Linked DNA regions of Homo sapiens: region 1 is linked to region 2. A link means that fine-mapping ties the variant in region 2 to the expression of a gene that starts in the linked region. Tissue or cell type: testis. Region 2 holds a variant in brackets; the other region holds the start of a gene. All regions are shown on one strand. Distances are between the middles of the regions.

Region 1 (8,075 bases), 49 kb after region 2:
CACTCGGGGTGGCGTGCGGAACGGGGGTGCGCCCCAGTCATGGCCGCGGTCGGGAGTGCTGCCGCCGCTGGAGTCAGCTGTCAGGAGCTGCGTCCCGTCCGCTGTGTAGCAGCACTGCTGACCTGAGCCGTACCGGAGGCTGCAGGAGCCAGTGAGTCAGGGCCAGGCCACTGTTGGGAGCCCACCCCTGACCCCAATCCCCATACCGGCCCCAGCCTGGGGGCTCACCTGGCCTGCACAGAACGCACACAGTGCACGGCCCCGGGGTGGTAGGTGCACACGCTGCCCTGCTCCATGTCACAGCCGTAGTCCGTCTGCAGAGCAGCAGGTGGCTGTCACCCAGTGGCCTCGGGTTCTGTCATCCCCTCCCTGAGGCCAACCCTGCAGGGGTCCTGAGACCCCAGCCCCACCCTCCAGGACACCTCTGTCTGCCTCCCCTGGTGCTGTCCTCAGTGGGGAGGCTAACCCCTCATCCCCTCTCCTGGGCCCTGATGGGAGGCTCACGAAGAAGCGGCCGGAGTCAGCCCGGGCCTGGGTCAGGGTGCAGGGGCAGTCCGGCAGCTCCTCCAGGAAGTTGGGCAGCTGATCCTCCAGCTCCTCCCAGGCCTGGCACTGAGTTCGTGCCCAGGCCACAGGGTCCTCTCGGAAGTCATCGCTCAGGTGCCAGGCCAGTGCGTGGTCGTTGGTCCAGAGCGCCTGCACGTCCCTGTGGAGGTGATGATGCTGGAGCTGGGCCAGCCCACACCACCCCATGGTCGCCCCACTCTCCCCACCCCCAGCCTGGGCTGCCCAGGCAAGCATGATGGGCCTCGGGCGGCGAGGCCCTCCAGCCATCACCTGCACATCCATGCCTTCTTACTTCTGCCCTGCGTAATTTTTGCTGTCGATGATCCGAAGTGCACCCACTCGCCATCTCTGGTAGCTGGGAGGAGCAGGTTTTGGGGTGAAAGTGAAAGAGCCGGAGTTGGGGATGTGTGTGGCCAGGGGGTACAGGTACGACCACTTTGCAGTCCACTCCTGTGAGTAGGGCATTCCTGAGGGAGAGGATGCCTGGTTAGCCCTGGGGTTCCTTCGAGGCCTGGCCCCAGGCCTTGCCACCTACAGCAGCCTGACAGATGGGTGGATGGACCGCCAGGCGGTCCCCTTAGGAGGGGCTGTTCTAGCAGGGACCCCGGCTTGGGTGACCATCACCTCCTGCCACACTCCAGGATCCCTGTCCCTGCTGGAAGCTGGGCCCAGGGCCATGCCAGCCGTGCAGGGGTTCCTCATGAGCCTCCTCCCCTGGAGCCAGGCCCCATGAGCTGCCCCCTCCCACCTGCCTGACCCCCCTGACCTGCACTTCCCTCCATCCGAATCCTCAATCTCTGCCTGGAATTCCCTTCCCTCCTCAACCCCACCTGGAAACTCCCTTCCTCCTCCCACACAGCTGGGACCCCCTTTCTCCCCCTCTGGGGGCCCAAAGCTCTGATGCCACCCCAGCCCTCAGCTGGCCTCACCTGTCTCCTCGTAGCCCCACAGTTCGATGGTGATGGTCTGCGTGGGCAGCGACTTGACATGCCAGGTCAGGCTGAGGTTGCCTGAGGTGTTGGCGGTGCCGTAGTATTGCCAACGCGTCTCGTTCACCAACTCGCTCTTCTCCATCATTGACACTTTGTTGGGGTGCACTGGGCAGGGGAGGTGAGGGGTGAGTGAGGGCCTGGGCCCAGGGAAGCAGGGAGGAGGCCCTGAGGCTTCAAGGGCTGTGGGAGCCTCCAGGGCCAATGCATGGCAGCAGCTGGGTGATGGTCTCTCTGGCCCGCACAGCAGAAAAGGACGCTGAGGCCGCAGAGGCAGGGGCCTGCCCTCCCTCCACTGCCCACGCCTCTAGCCTCGACCTGGCTTCTCCCCTGCCCTGGCATGGCGGAGCTCAGTGGATAGGCACTGGCCCACCTCTCTAGGGACCCCTGCAGCTCCCACTCACTCTGGGCTGGGACCGCGGTCTGGATGCCAGGGAGTGGAAAGGAGCTGAAGGAACTCTCGCAGGCGGGCAGGCCTCCCAAGGGACTGGTTCAGCCAGAGAGGCAGGGCACGGACAGGCCAAGTCTCGGTGTGCATAGATTAGCGCTGGGGAAAGTCCCCGTGGGGGCAGGCTGTGGGCAGGGAGGAGGGCTCACCAGCCAGCCAGGTGCCCGCACGAGGGAAGGAGTGGCCGTTGTCCAGTGACACAGTGAAGGGGATGCGGCCGCTCTCATAGAGCAGAGGTGACACACAGTGCACTTGCCCGGAGGAGTCCACATGGCCGAGGGTCTGGATGCTGTCCTTAAACCTGTGGGCGTGGTGGTGGTGGGAGGGGCTGGGTCATTGCAGGCTGAGCCTCTCGATGGTCTGGGCCCCCAACCTCCCTGGGGAACCCAACCAGCCAGCTGTCCCTGTGCCCTCCTGCCTGTCCTGGGTCCGAGGGGCTCCACTCAGCCAGTCAGTGGGTCTGAGCCCTCAGCATGCACAGGGATGGGGGCGTGGGGCCCCAGTGCCCGGCCTCCTGGGCCTCCCAACCTGCAGATCACACTGGCGTCTGTGGGGCTGGACATCTTGAAGTGCCGCACCACAAAGTCCTTGCCGCCCATCATGGATCCTGAGTAGGGCAATATCTCCAGGCAGAAGTCCCGGAAATCCAAGCAGCAGGTGCCAAGGCCAGAGCACGTCGGGTGGCAGGAACATGGCCCGTCCAGGGCGCCACAGCGCATGGAGCAGCTCTCTTGGGCATCTGGAGGAGAGGATGCTGAGGGCCTGGCCCGGCGGGTACTGGACTGGCTGCCCCATGTGCAGGGCCTGTCTCTGTTTCTCCCACAGCCCATTAGACAGCAGCATCCCCAGGAGAACGCTGGCCAGGAACTGCACAGGCCACCAGGTGGACACAGTAGAAAGCCACAGGGCCCGTGGGGATGGGATGAATCTTAGCACAGACCATCTGGCTGTTGCCCTGACTGACGGGCTAGAATGCAGCGAGAAGAGGCAAAAAGCTGCATCCGCTCAGCCCTGCAGGGTCAGGAGAAGCCCCTGGGCATGACTGCCCTTCAGCCACCAAGTCCTCTATCCCACAGGCAGGGGTCCTCAGTGGGCCACGGTAGCTGGAGCCCTCGACCTCTCTTGGCTCCCCAGGGTGTCTGTGGTCAGCACGCCTTCTGGGGGCCCTGAAGCCTGCAGAAGAACCCCTCTTGCTTGCCTGGACTGGGGTGGGGGATATGGCTGCCAAGAGTCTCATTTGAGGCCTGGTAGGGAATGGTGCAGGGTCTGAACGTGACACTTCTCGCTCTCCCAGGGGCTGCAATTGAGACCCCAAAGAGAGCTCCGTGCTCAGGGCAGAAGGCCAGGGCCGCTCCCCTCCTTTCTGGGGAGAGGAGGGACATTTCAAGCAGGGGTCCCAGCAGTGGGGAAAGGGAAGTGGGGGTGCACACCACAAGGGGCTGTGGGCGCCGGGCCCAAAACTTCTCCTATGGGCCATAAGACCGGTGGGCAAGGCCATATTTCCAGGGGCTGGCATGAAGGAAGGGTTGCAGGGAGGGACTGGGGCAGGTGCATGCACCCAGGCTGGAATTGCACTTCCCTGGCCCTTCCCCATCCCCCATCAAAAGAGGCCAGTCGAGGGCCAGGCCTGGGCCTGAGCCACCCCGCTGGCCCCACTTCACCAAGTGCAGTGCCTGGCACTTAAAAGCAACAATAAATATGTACTGGCCAAGGATTTGGTGGCGCACAGGGGTCGGGGGAGGAGGCCGAGAGATGCTTGCAAGTGAGATAAGTGGCAAGAGGGTCGATGGGAAATGGGGTGGGGGACGGGGGGCAGCCTGGGACCAGTGTCCTGGTTCTGGAGTTCGGGGCTTTCCCTAGACTTTCCTGGATTCAGCCCCACCCTGATGAGGACCCACAATCCTGGCTCCCCCTCCGTGATCCCGCCCTGTCAGGGCTGGGGACACAGGCGGAGGCCTCTGCTGGTCTCCCCCGCCTCCCTCCTAGCTACCAGCAGGTTTAGGGTGGGCCCGGCTCAGACCTCCCATCCCCATGGGCTGCCCCTCCACATGGACCCTCAGAATTTCTTCCCATCACCCCTAGCACAGCCACAGATGGCCTGACAGATGGACAGAGGCTGAGCCCAGAGGGATGTCAGCCCAGGCCTGGCTGCAGACAGATGGACAGACAGACGGGGACACAGAAGGGCAGGGAGGCATACCTGCTGTGGGTCCGGGGCCCGGGCCGAGGGCTGTCGCCAGCAGCAGCAGGGCCCAGGGCAGGAGGGCTGGCTTCATGGTGCAGCCTGTGTCTGCAGCCAGCAGTGCAGTGGCTCCGAGGCGAGGCGGCCAGACAAGCTCACTCCCTGCTGGCCTGGCCCCGCCCGCCCTGCACTCTGCGGCACCGCCCCGCCCCGCCCCTCCCCGCCCCTCCCCACCCAGTCCCCTCTCAAAGTCCACAGGTGCCTGCGTGGACCAGCAAGGCCCAAGTTGCCCCGTTAGCACATTCCTGGCCCGCAGGCCTGGATCGGCCCTGGGACCCTGTGGGAGGGTGAGGAGGCCGGAGCCTCCAGCCACAGGACCTTTGGCAGGCGATGAGCCGGATGTCCAGAGGGCGAAGCTCAGACCCTGGGTCCCAGCCCCGCCTTGCATGCAGGGCGAGCCCGGCGGGGCTGAAGCAGAGGATGGGATGCGCAGGGTGAATAAGGCAGGGCTGTTTTAGCTCCAGGGAGGATTCCAGACTCTGTGGCCCTGACATAGACCTCCATCTCTAGCCCTCATCTTCCTGCAGGAAGGAGGTGCACCCAACTCATCCTCAGGGGGAGGCAGGAGCTGTTTGGGTCAGACACAGGCTGAGCCCTGGGGCGGAGGCAGCTCTGCAGGGGTCCCCTCTGGAGGGAGGAAGGAGGAAGGGGAGAGAAGGTACCCAAGCCCAGCGGGGGGCCCGGAAGGGAGACAGGGCCCATCCCCGGGCTCCAGAGATGCCACCACCCTGGGGAGCCTTGGCTGTCCCAGCCACACCTAATCCTGCCGCTAAGAGTTTGCATAATTTAATCAGTATTCACCTCCCTTCTTGAGCAGATGAGGAAACTGAAGCTCAGATGCGGATAGGCAAGGCCGAGCCAGGCCCTTGGTGGCTTCTGGGAGCCCCTGCAGCCAGGGCGGGTGGTAAGGGCTGCGGCCTGGGACTGGTCATTTGGACCCTGACACCTGGGCTGGACATCCAGACAGGCGGGTGGTCCTCTCCCAGCTGCAGCTTCTCAAGGTGTCCAAAAGGGACCCTTGCCACACTTGCAGGGAGTCAGAGGTGGCCCCAGGGCATGAGCTTAGGCCATCCGGTCTGTGATCTGCCCCAGCGCTTGCGGCCAGGCCAGCCCATTGTTCCCCGGCCTGTTCTCTCTCTTGCCTGGGTGGTGCCTGCTGGGAACCACAGGGTGTTGGCAGCCACCCGTGGCTCCAGAGAGGTGGCCCCTACTGAAAGTGTTAGAGGCGTGTGCTGGGGGACTTGGCTCCTGAGTCCCCACACAGAGCTGTTCCAGGGAAGCCACACCCGCATTTGATGTTTTCCCACCTCCCAAAGACATTTGGTGAGAGGCCCCCAAGACCTTCAGCTTCTCAGGGACTGTCTCCAGAGGGGAGAAAGTCCCTTAACCCACAATGGCGCTCAGGGCACCTCTGCAGGTGAGTGTCCTGTAAGTGGACGCTCAGGTGCTGAGCCAGGGAGAGCCTGTCTCCTGGCCCCAGGCTGGCGAGGGCATTCATCCCAGGCCCAGGGCTGAAGTTGCTCCCTACAGCACTGGGTGCAGGGGAGGGTCCGAGGTGTCCGTCCTCCTATAGGTGAGGCTCCAGGGAGGGGTGCTGGGGGATCGGCTGAGACAGTTCCCGGGAACTGGAGGAGGGAGAGCTGCTGCTTCCTGTTTTTGGCCTGGGCACCGTTGCTGCGCGTGTCTGGAGACAATGGAAGTGCGGTAGGGGCTAGGTGTGCAGTCTGGGAAGCTCCATACCCCAGGCCCTGCAGGGAGGGGGCGTCAGCTGAGTAACTGGGGCTGGCTTATCTCAGCCCCCCGAAAGGCGGGTTCAGCCAGACCCATCTGGGGCCACCAAGCCTCTGGTTCCAAAAGGGCGGTGCCCAGCCCTTTACGCCTTTCCTCCTGGGTGGTGGGCATGTCCAGCCCATGAGGGGCACAGGGCAGTGAGGAGGGTCCCCATCTCCATCCTGGACAGAGAGCCTGCTCCATGGGAGGTCCCAGGGCCAGGAGGGCCCCTGCGGTGCTGGGAGGGGAAGAGAGTTGTGAAGGGTGCCAGCTCTAGGGGCTTAATGCTCTGTGGGGCCTGCCTTAAAATCCTTAATCATTTTTGGTCAGACATGGTGGTGGCTCAGGCCTGTAATCCCAGCACTTTGGGAGGCCAAGGTGGGTGGATCACTTGAGGTCAGGAGTTTGAAACCAGCCTGGCCAACATGGTGAAACTCCGTCTATACTAAAAATACAAAAATTAGCTGGGCGTGTTGGCGTGTGCCTGTGATCTCAGCTACTCGGGAGGCTGAGGCAAGAGAATCGCTTGAATCCAGAAGGCGGGGGTTGCAGTGAGCTGAGATCGTGCCACTGCAGATCGTGCCACTGCATTCCAGCCTGGGAGACAGAGTGAGACTCCATATCAAAAAAAAAAAAAAAAAAAAAAAAAAATCCTTAATCCTTTTTGATCAAGGAGCTTCATATTTATGTCTTGCACTGAGCCCAGCTATTCTGTGACTGGCCCCATTAGGGCGACTGTGATGGGAGTTAAGTACCCTCCCTGCCGGCCCCATCCCCCCTTTCCCTCCCTGACAGCCCCCTCCTCCCAGCCTCTCAGCTGCCCCAGCCCTGCCTGCCCTCCCACCGTACAGCCTCCCACCCACTGGCACCCAGGTGCGTTCTGGGGATGCACCTAACTCCCCTTTGAAGCCTGGCTCCAGCTGCACTAGAGGCGTCTGCCTGGCCCAGCCCCGAGTCGGCTCTCTCCTTACCCCACTGGGCACCCCCAGCCGCTGCTTTGGTTGCCTGGCTGGTCCCTGAGATGCTGGAGAAGGAGGGGGGCTAGGCCCTGCCCTATGGACTATGGCAGTAAAGGCCCAGAATCCCTGGGGACAGCAACTCTCCGCCAGAGACTCTGCCAGATTGCCCCCTAGAGGTGAGCAAAGAGGCAAAGACAACTGTTCCATCTTTATTAGAAAAGCAACCAAAAAAAGGGTGAGGGGTGAGCCTGGCCCTAAAGGACCCCTCCACTGTGACACAGGCAGAGCCGGCTCATCCCGGCGTCGAGGGGTGGATATGGCCAGCTGGGTGTGGGCAGATTTACAAAGTCAACACTTCATAGAAAAGGATGCCGCCTGGCGTGCAGATGGCGACCAATCCACCTTCACATGGCTAAGGCGGGCCCCTCCTCCTCTGGGCTCCCATGTGGTGTGGACAGCCTGACCTGGGTACAGGGAGGATGCCATGAGGAGGTGGGCTGGGCAGGCCTGGGGGCTGTGTGGGGAGTGGCATCCATGTGGGCCTCTGGTCCTGCCCAGGGTCCTGCCCAGGGGGCATTCCAGGCCTGGCTGGTCCCCTGGGGCGTGGCGGTGGGGCTGCAGTGGCCCCTCAAATGTCCATGTAGTCGTCGTCCTCGTCTGTCTCGCTCTCCAGCGAGGACTCCTGGCTGGATGTCTCCAGGACCTCCAGGGCTGGCTGGCATAGGCTCTCCTTCCTCACGTTGGCAGCAGACTGGGCAGAAAGGATGGCTGACTGCGGAGAGGGCCGGGCGGGGCACTGGTCAAGGATGGCTGGGCTCTGCCCCAAGCCCCTCTGCCACCTTCACCCCTGCCCCAGGCCCCCCTCCCACCCTCACCCCTGCCCCAGGCCCCTATGCCATCCTCACCCACACCCCAGGCCCTCCTGCCACCCCCACCCCCATCCTAGGCCCCCTTTGTAACCTATGCCTCCCACCCACACATGGCTCCAGCCCAGCCCCTGAGGTCACCTTCAGCTTCTGCTTGGTCTCCTCCGAGATGCTGCCTTTGGGGGAGAGCAGGGTTGGGGTGGGTGGCGTGACGGTGATCTCAGGGGGGAACTT
Region 2 (8,075 bases):
CTCAGAGTCCCAAGAGAAGTTTTGGGGTCCATCAGCTCAAGCCCTATGCCCTGCTGGCAGGGAAGGATCCTGGGATCACCTGCCAAAGGCCAGCCTTGAAGTAGTTGTGGCCAGAGTGTCCCCAGTGAGATGGGGAGTGGAGTCCCAGGGTGGGCTCCTGAGGCCACTGTGAGGGACTGAGAGGTGGCCGAGGCCTCGTTCTGCCTGTAGCATATGAGCTGGTGCTGCTGGGAACAATGGCAACAGAAGTACTTTGCAAACTGAGAAGCACCTTGTATATGGCAAAGGTCAGTGTAAATGGCATCACACTTTGCAACCGTAGTGTGTTGTGGACCTGTGAGCAGCTGGATTTGATGGGGAAGCCTGGTTGTGTTCTGCAACCTAATCTGCGGTTTGGTGGCAGCCGACGTGCCGCCTCCGTCACCATTCTCCAATGAGTGCCAGCTGAGCAAGCCTGGTGGGGAGGCAGGGGGAGGGGAGCCCCACAGCGACTCTGTGCCATGTCCCCTAGAGCCATCCTCCAGCAGCAGGGCTCACCCGTGGATGCCACCATCGCGGCTCTGGTCTGCACCAGCGTCGTCAACCCTCAGAGCATGGGCCTGGGCGGAGGGGTCATCTTCACCATCTACAATGTGACAACAGGTGGGCCCACATGTGAACTGCCATGGGGAAGATGGGCTTGTCCACACCACTGCGTAACCCCTTCTCCAGCCAGTCCCATCAACTCAAGCCCGTTTCTGGGTGTTCTTGGGCCCCCTGCCCTGCCCCATTTGCCTCAGCTGTGCAAAGCCCTTGTGTCAACTCCTGTCCCTGTGTTAGCCCAGAGTCCATCTCATAATGCAGAGATGGAAACTGAGGCCTAGAGCAGGCCAGGGGCTGTCTGCAGGGTCCATGACCACTCACCTGCCCTGCCCTACTCCAGGGAAGGTGGAGGTCATCAATGCCCGGGAGACGGTGCCGGCCAGCCACGCCCCGAGCCTGCTGGACCAGTGTGCACAGGCTCTGCCACTGGGCACAGGTGACGCCCCATGGAGGTCCCCCACTCCCACCCCCCAGGCCACTAGGACTAATCAGAACACCCCCGCAAAGGAGCAGCGCCTCACGGACAGGCTGTGACTCCCTGGCACGGGGGGACACGGAGCCTGTGGGGAACCCCCAGCCCCAACCTGCAGGGATTGAGAAGGTCCCCCTTGGGAACGGGCTCTCTGAGGTGATCCAGGGAGAGGGACCAGGCTGGACAAAGGCCTGGAGGGTTCAGTGGAGATGGGTTGGCGGGGCAGGGTGGGGCTCCTGGGGCCAGTTTGTGTAGGGCCCCTTGGGCTTGGCCATGGACTTTGTGGGGAGCCACAGGTGATTTGAGCAGGGAGGGACGTGGTCGGGTGTGGGCTCCAGAAAGCTCACTCTGGCTGCTGTAACTGGGGGGCCACATGTAGGGGTGATGGCAAACCTGGGAAGGCCTGGAAGCCACAGGGTTGAGAGCTGGGATGTGCCATGCAGGGGCCCAGTGGATCGGGGTGCCCGGGGAGCTCCGTGGCTATGCCGAGGCCCACCGCCGCCATGGCCGCCTGCCCTGGGCGCAGCTGTTCCAGCCCACCATCGCGCTGCTCCGAGGGGGGCATGTGGTGGCCCCTGTCCTCAGCCGTTTCCTGCACAACAGCATCCTGCGGCCTTCCTTGCAGGCGTCAACCCTGCGGTGAGCCCCACATGGTGGCCCTGGGTTCCTGGGTTCAAGGCCATATCCTGTCTGGGCCCAGTCCACACCCCAGCTCTGCCTCAGTCCCTCTTACACTGGAGGATTGACCCTCGGGGTGCTGGCCAGGACAAAGAGTACTTTTCATGGCCCTTCCAGCTCCCCGTGGCAGAGCCTAACTTGGGGTTAGGCTGCGGGGAGTTTATTGCCCAAGTGATAGGACTCCAAGGTGTGGATTTGGGCTCTGCCACCCGCCCTGGGGCCCCGGCCTCCTTCTTCCTCTCTCTGGCATGGCAGGAGGGCTTCAACTGCCACTCTCACCTGCCCCACCCAGCCCACTGACAGGCCCTCCCAGGAGTGAGATGACAGGCCCTAGGTGGACCCAGGCCCCACTGGGAAATTTGCCTTCCCTGGACCAGGGCCATGAGCTGGGTGAGTGGTGTCAGTCCCACCACCTCCTAGAGAATCAGTTCCCCGGTGTCCACCCCAGTGCCTCGGGACCCTGGGCCAGGGCGCCCCCCACTGTAGGGTCCTGAGGACTCCACCCATGAGAGCCCCGGAAGAGTGTGGCTGCCTCTGGGACCTGGCCCCACCCTGAGGCTCCCCCCACCCCCCAGCCAGCTCTTCTTCAACGGGACAGAACCCCTGAGGCCTCAGGACCCACTCCCATGGCCTGCACTGGCCACCACCCTGGAGACCGTGGCCACAGAGGGCGTGGAGGTCTTCTACACGGGGAGGCTGGGCCAGATGCTGGTGGAGGACATTGCCAAGGAAGGTCAGCCTCCCTGAGGTTCCATACCCCATCCCTGCTGGAGGAAGAGCCAAGTTCTGGGCACTGGGGGTTGAGGGCAGGCTCCTTCCCAGGCCCTGAGGGAGTGCAGGCAGTGCCCGGGACCCCGAGAGGCCATGCACCTAGCTCTGCCGGCCCAAGGACCCCTGTGGTCCAGGACCTCAGAGAGCAGAGCCTGCGGGTTAGGGCCAGCAGAGGGGCGTTACCGATGGTCACGGCAGGTCTGGGTAGCCGAGCTGACCATTCTCACAGGCTCTCATAAGCCAGCTCCCTCTCCCATCTTCCCTTTCTTTTCCCCAGCCTCCCTGCCTCTGGTCTCTGTCCACCCCTCCACGCCTGGCCCCAAGGGGCCAGTCCTGAGGCCACTGCCTACAGACCTACCATCATCCTGTGTCCACAAGGCAAAAGCATGAGTGGAATCCCATTGTGTGACCTGACAGCAGTGGCTATTCCTCCCCGCCTCAGTTTCCCATCTGTTCATGGAGCCCTCTCCTTCTCATCCCAGGGAGCCAGCTGACGCTGCAGGACCTGGCCAAGTTCCAGCCCGAGGTGGTGGATGCCCTGGAGGTGCCCCTGGGGGACTATACCCTGTACTCACCACCGCCGCCTGCAGGGGGTGCCATTCTCAGCTTTATCCTCAACGTGCTAAGAGGTAAAGCCCCTGCCCAGAGCCCTGGCGCCCACCCCCTCCCCCGCACCCCCGGCCCCCGGGAACTCAGACTCCAAGCCCAAGCCCAGCCAAGGCCCAGCTCAGCCTCCTCCTCCATAAACCGGGTTCACAGATGCACAATATGAAGACAGAGCTGTGGAAACCAATCAGGATGGTGGGTTTTAGAGCTGGCCTCCAGCTCGACCCATACGTGAGGCTTTGCTGAAGGGCGTGATATCATTCGTCCAGAGTCCTCCTCCCACTGGGTGACCAGTCCCAGACACAGAAGCAGGTGGGCTGTGTGGGTGGTGAGCTGCCTGTCAGGGGCGTGCACCTGGGGGAGCGAAGCCAGCCTAGCCCAAGGCAGCCTGCAGGGGGGTTCTGGCAGTGCTGAGGCCTGGGGCTGCCTGCGCTGGCTTAATATTAGTGTCCTGTGTCTGCCATTACAAATCACCACAAGCTTGGTGGCTTAAAATAACAGAAATGTGTCCTCTCACAGTTCTGGAAGCCAGAAGCCCGATATCTAGGTGTCCACAGGGCTGCATTCCATTGGGGGCTCCAGGGGAGAATCTGTTCTTTGCCTTGTTGACCTAAAT[A/G]AAAAACAGAACAAGGCTCTCAAAGAAAATGATGTTTGTTCCAGAGTAGGCATCGCGGTAGGAATACCCATGCTAGGGTAAACTATGTGTGTATTCAGGGAGGTGAAGGAAGACAAAAGTTTTCAAAGAGAAAATGAGGAAGATTATATAACTTTTTTGTTTACAATCAATGATAATTTATTGTACATTTTATTTTTTTCATTGCATTATTATTATTATTATTATTAATTATTGAGACGGTGTCTTGCTCTGTCGCCTAGGGTAGAGCACAGTGGCACAATCTCGGTTCATTGCAAACTCTGCTTCCTGGGTTCAAGTGATTCTCCTGACTCAGCCTCCCAAGTAGCTGGGATTACAGGCATGGGCCACCACACGCCGCTGATTTTTATCTTTTCTTTTTTTCCTTTTTTTTTTTTTTCTTTTTAGACAGAGTCTCAATCTGTCACCCAGGCTAGAGTGCAATGGCACGATCTCAGCTCACTGCAACCTCTGCCTCCCAGGTACAAGCAATTCTCCTGCCTCAGTCTCCCAAGTAGCTGGGATTACAGGCGCTTGCCACGACACCGAGTTAATTTTTGTATTTTTGGTAGAGATGGGGTTTTGCCACGTTGGTCAGGCTGGTCTTGAACTTCTGATGTCAGGTGATCCGCCCACCTCGGCATCCCAAAGTGCTGGGATTACAGGCATGAGCCACCGCGCCCAGATGATTTTTATCTTTTTAGTAGAGACGGGGTTTTACCATGTTGGCCGGGCTGGTCTTGAACTCTTGACCTTAACTGACCCACTTGCCTCAGCCTCCCAAAGTGCTGGGATTCCAGGCGTGAGCCACCTCTGCCTGGCTATTTTATTTTTATTTCATTAGTTTTTGGGGAACAAGTGGTGTTCGGTTGCATGGAAAAGTTATTTAGTGGTGATTTCTTTTTTTTTTCTTTTTTTTTTTGAGATGGAATCTCACTCTGTGGCCCAGGCTGGAGAGCAGTGGCATGATCTTAGCTCACTGCAACCTCTGCCTCTGAGGTTCAAGCAATTCTCCAGTCTCAGCCTCCTGAGTAGCTGGGATTACAGGTGCACGCTACCAAGCCTGGTTAATTAATTAATTTATTTATTTATTTTATTTTTTTAGTAGAGATGGGGTTTCACCATGTTGGCCAGGCTGGTCTTAAACTCCTGACTTCAAGTGATCTGCCTGCCTCAGCCTCCCAAAGTGCTGGAATTACAGGCATGAGCCACCGCATCTGGTCTTTAGTGGTGATTTCTGAGATCTTGATGCACCCATCACACAAGCAGTGTACACTGTTCCTAGTGTGTAGTCTTTTATCCCTCATTCCCCTCCCACCCTTCCCCTTGAGTTCCCAGAGTCCATTAGAGCATTTTTCTTTTCCTCTGAGACAGAGTCTCGCTCTGTCGCCAAGGCTGGAGTGCAATGGTGCGTCTCGGTTCACTACAAACTCTGCCTCCTGGGTTCAAGCGATTTTCCTGCCTCAGCCTCCCACGTAGCTGGGATTACAGGCGCCTGCCACCACAACTAATTTTTTTTTTTTGTATTATTAGTAAAGATGGGGTTTCACCGTGTTGACCAGGCTGCTCTTGAACTCCTGACCTCAGGTGATCTGCCTGCCTTGGCCTCCCAAATTGCTGGGATTACAGGTGTGAGCCACCATGCTGGGCCCCATTATATCATTCCTTCTTTTTTCTGGAGATGGAGTTTTGCTCTTGTCACCCAGGCTGGAGTGGAGTGCAATTGCGCGATCTCAGCTCACTGCAACCTCTGCCTCCCGGTTCAAGCGATTCTCCTGCCTCAGCCTCCCGAGTAGCTAGGACTACCCATGTGTGCTACCATGCCCGGCTAATTTTTGTATTATTAGAGACAGGGTTTCATCATGTTGGCCAGACTGCTCTTGAACTCCTGACCTCAGGTGATCCACCTGCCTCGGCCTCCCAAAGTGTTGGGATTATAGGCATAAGCCACCATGCCTGGCCCATTATATCATTTTTATTCCTTTGCGTCCTCATAGCTTAGCTTTGGTATATAACTGTTTCGGGCCTGGCATGGTGGCTCACGCCTGTAATCCCAGCACTTTGGGAGGCCAAGGCAGGCGGATCATGAGTTCAGGAGATCGAGACCATCCTGCCTAACACAGTGAAACCCTGTCTCTACTAAAAATACAAAAAATTAGCCAGGCGTGGTGGCGGGCACCTGTAGTCCCAGTTGCTTGGGAGGCTGAGGCAGGAGAATGGTGTGAACCCAGGAGACAGAGCTTGCAGTGAGCTGAGATCACACCACTGCACTCCAGCCTGGGCAACAGAGTGAGACTCTGTCTCAAAAAAAAAAAAAAACTGTTTTGAAATGATCATCCTTGGCTAGTAGGATGCATGGAAAAGTGATAAGGGTGGCACTGGACAGGCCACTCATGGGCAGATGTCTTTGCAGAAGTATTTTTTGTGTAAGATTGTGATGGCCTTCTTGTAAGGTTGTGAGCTGTTGTGTTTTTGAGGCAGGGTCTTGCTCTGTCACCTGGGCTGGAGTGCAGTGGCACTGTCAAGGCTCACTGCAGCCTCAACCTCCTGGACTCAAGCAATCCTCTCACCTCAGCCTCCCAAAGTTTTGGGATTACAGGCATGAGCCACTGCACCCAGCCGAGAACGGGGCACTTGTGCACGAGAGTCCTGTCTTCATGGCCTTTCCCTGGCTCTATTTTTCAGAGTTTTTTTTTTTTTGTTTTGTTTTTTTTTTTTTTTTTTGAGACAGAGTCTTGCTCTGTTTACTAGGCTGGAGTGCAGTGGTGCAATCCTGCCTCACTGCAACCTCCTCCTCCCGGGTTCAAGCAATTCTCCCTCCTCAGCCTCCCTAGTAGCTGGGGTTACAGGCACCCACCATCATGCCTGGATAATTTTTGTATTTTTGTAGAGATGGGGTTTCACCATGTTAGTCAGGCTGGTCTTGAACTCCTGACCTCAGCCTCGGCCTCCCAAAGTGCTGGGACTACAGGTGTGAGCCACTGTGGCTGGCTGCCGCTCTATTTTGAAAATTTTCACAGCCTCTTCCCACTTCCGGTGGCTGCCAGCATTCCTTGGCTTGTGGCTGCCTCACTCCAGTCTCTGTCTCCATGATCATACTGGTTTCTCCTCTGCTGTGTGTCCTCTCCTCTATGTGTCTGTCTTACAAGGACACTGTGGTCACATTCAGGGCACATCTAGATAATCCAGGATCATCTCCTCCTCTCAAAATCTTTAACGTACTTTAGGCCGGGTGTGGTGGCTCATGCCTGTAATCCCAGCACTTTGGGAGGCTAAGGAGGGTGGATCACTTGAGGTCAGGAGTTGGAGACCAGCCTGGCCAACACAGTAAAACACCATCTCTACTAAAAATACAAAAATTAGCCGGGCATGATGGCCTGTGCCTGAAGTCCTAGCTACTTGGGAGGCTGAGGCGGGAGAATCACTTCAACCCAGGAGGTGGAGATTGCAGTAAGCTGAGATCGTGCCACACACTCCAGCCTGGGTGACAGAACAAGACTTCCTCTCCAAAAAACACAAAAAAGGCGGGGCATGATGGCTTACGCCTGTAATCCTAGCACTTTGGGAGGCCAAGGCAGGCAGATCACTTGAGGCCAGGAGTTCAATACCAGCCTGAACAACATGGCGAAATCCTGTCTACTAAAAATACAAAAATAATTAGCTGTACGTGGTGGCGAACACATGTAGTCTCAGCTACTCAGGAGACTAAGGACCAAGAATCACTTGAACCCAGGAGGCAGAGATTGCAGTGAGCTGAGACTGCGCCATTGCACTCCAGCCTGGGCAATAGAGTGAGACTCTGTCTAAAAAAAAAAAAAAAAAAAAAAAAATCCTTAACTTACTTTTCCACTTAAGGTATTAGTCACTCTTGTGCTGTATAAGGTAATATCCACAGGTTTTGGGAATTAGGATGTGGGTGGATCTTTCTGTGGTGGGGGGTGGGGGCAACATTCAACCCATTACATAGGGTGACCCCAACCAACCTGTGCCCCAACCTCTCTCCAGGGTTCAACTTCTCAACAGAGTCTATGGCCAGGCCTGAAGGGAGGGTGAACGTGTACCACCACCTTGTAGAGACGCTCAAGTTTGCCAAGGGGCAGAGGTGGAGGCTGGGGGACCCTCGAAGCCACCCGAAGCTCCAGGTGAGGTTGCTGAGGTTGCTGGGCTGGTGGGCCGTCCTCCTCCCTGGCTCAGGACTTGGCATGAAATGAGGGTCAGGCCTGGTAGGGGGAAGTTGGAGGGATATGTATGTGGTTCTAGGCCAGGGCAGGACTGAAAGGGATCCCGGGGTGGCAGGTACAGGGGTCAGGTGCAGGAGTGGCACCATATCTC

Evidence for each region. PIP is the estimated chance that this variant, and not a neighbour inherited with it, causes the effect.
Region 1: it holds the start of SUSD2, and the variant in region 2 is fine-mapped to the expression of SUSD2 in testis (GTEx, PIP 0.99).

The regions. Positions count from the first base shown.
Region 1 is chr22:24,177,725-24,185,799 of GRCh38, reverse strand. SUSD2 (sushi domain containing 2) reads right to left here and starts at 4,313. Exons shown (of 15, transcript NM_019601.4): 1 at 4,205-4,313; 2 at 2,533-2,743; 3 at 2,154-2,305; 4 at 1,497-1,664; 5 at 860-1,034; 6 at 505-706; 7 at 229-314; 8 at 1-139. The coding sequence starts at 4,280. CABIN1 (calcineurin binding protein 1) reads right to left here. Exons shown (of 37, transcript NM_012295.4): 36 at 7,983-8,075; 37 at 7,172-7,747. The coding sequence ends at 7,604. RefSeq lists enhancers at 2,084-2,193, 2,264-2,343.
Region 2 is chr22:24,226,441-24,234,515 of GRCh38, reverse strand. It overlaps GGT5 (gamma-glutamyltransferase 5), which reads left to right. Exons shown (of 12, transcript NM_004121.5): 2 at 512-642; 3 at 923-1,018; 4 at 1,498-1,693; 5 at 2,308-2,465; 6 at 2,986-3,132; 7 at 7,749-7,885. Among named protein-coding and RNA genes, the nearest start is that of GGT5, 15 kb to the left of the region's middle. The variant A/G (reference allele first, on the strand shown) is at 3,726.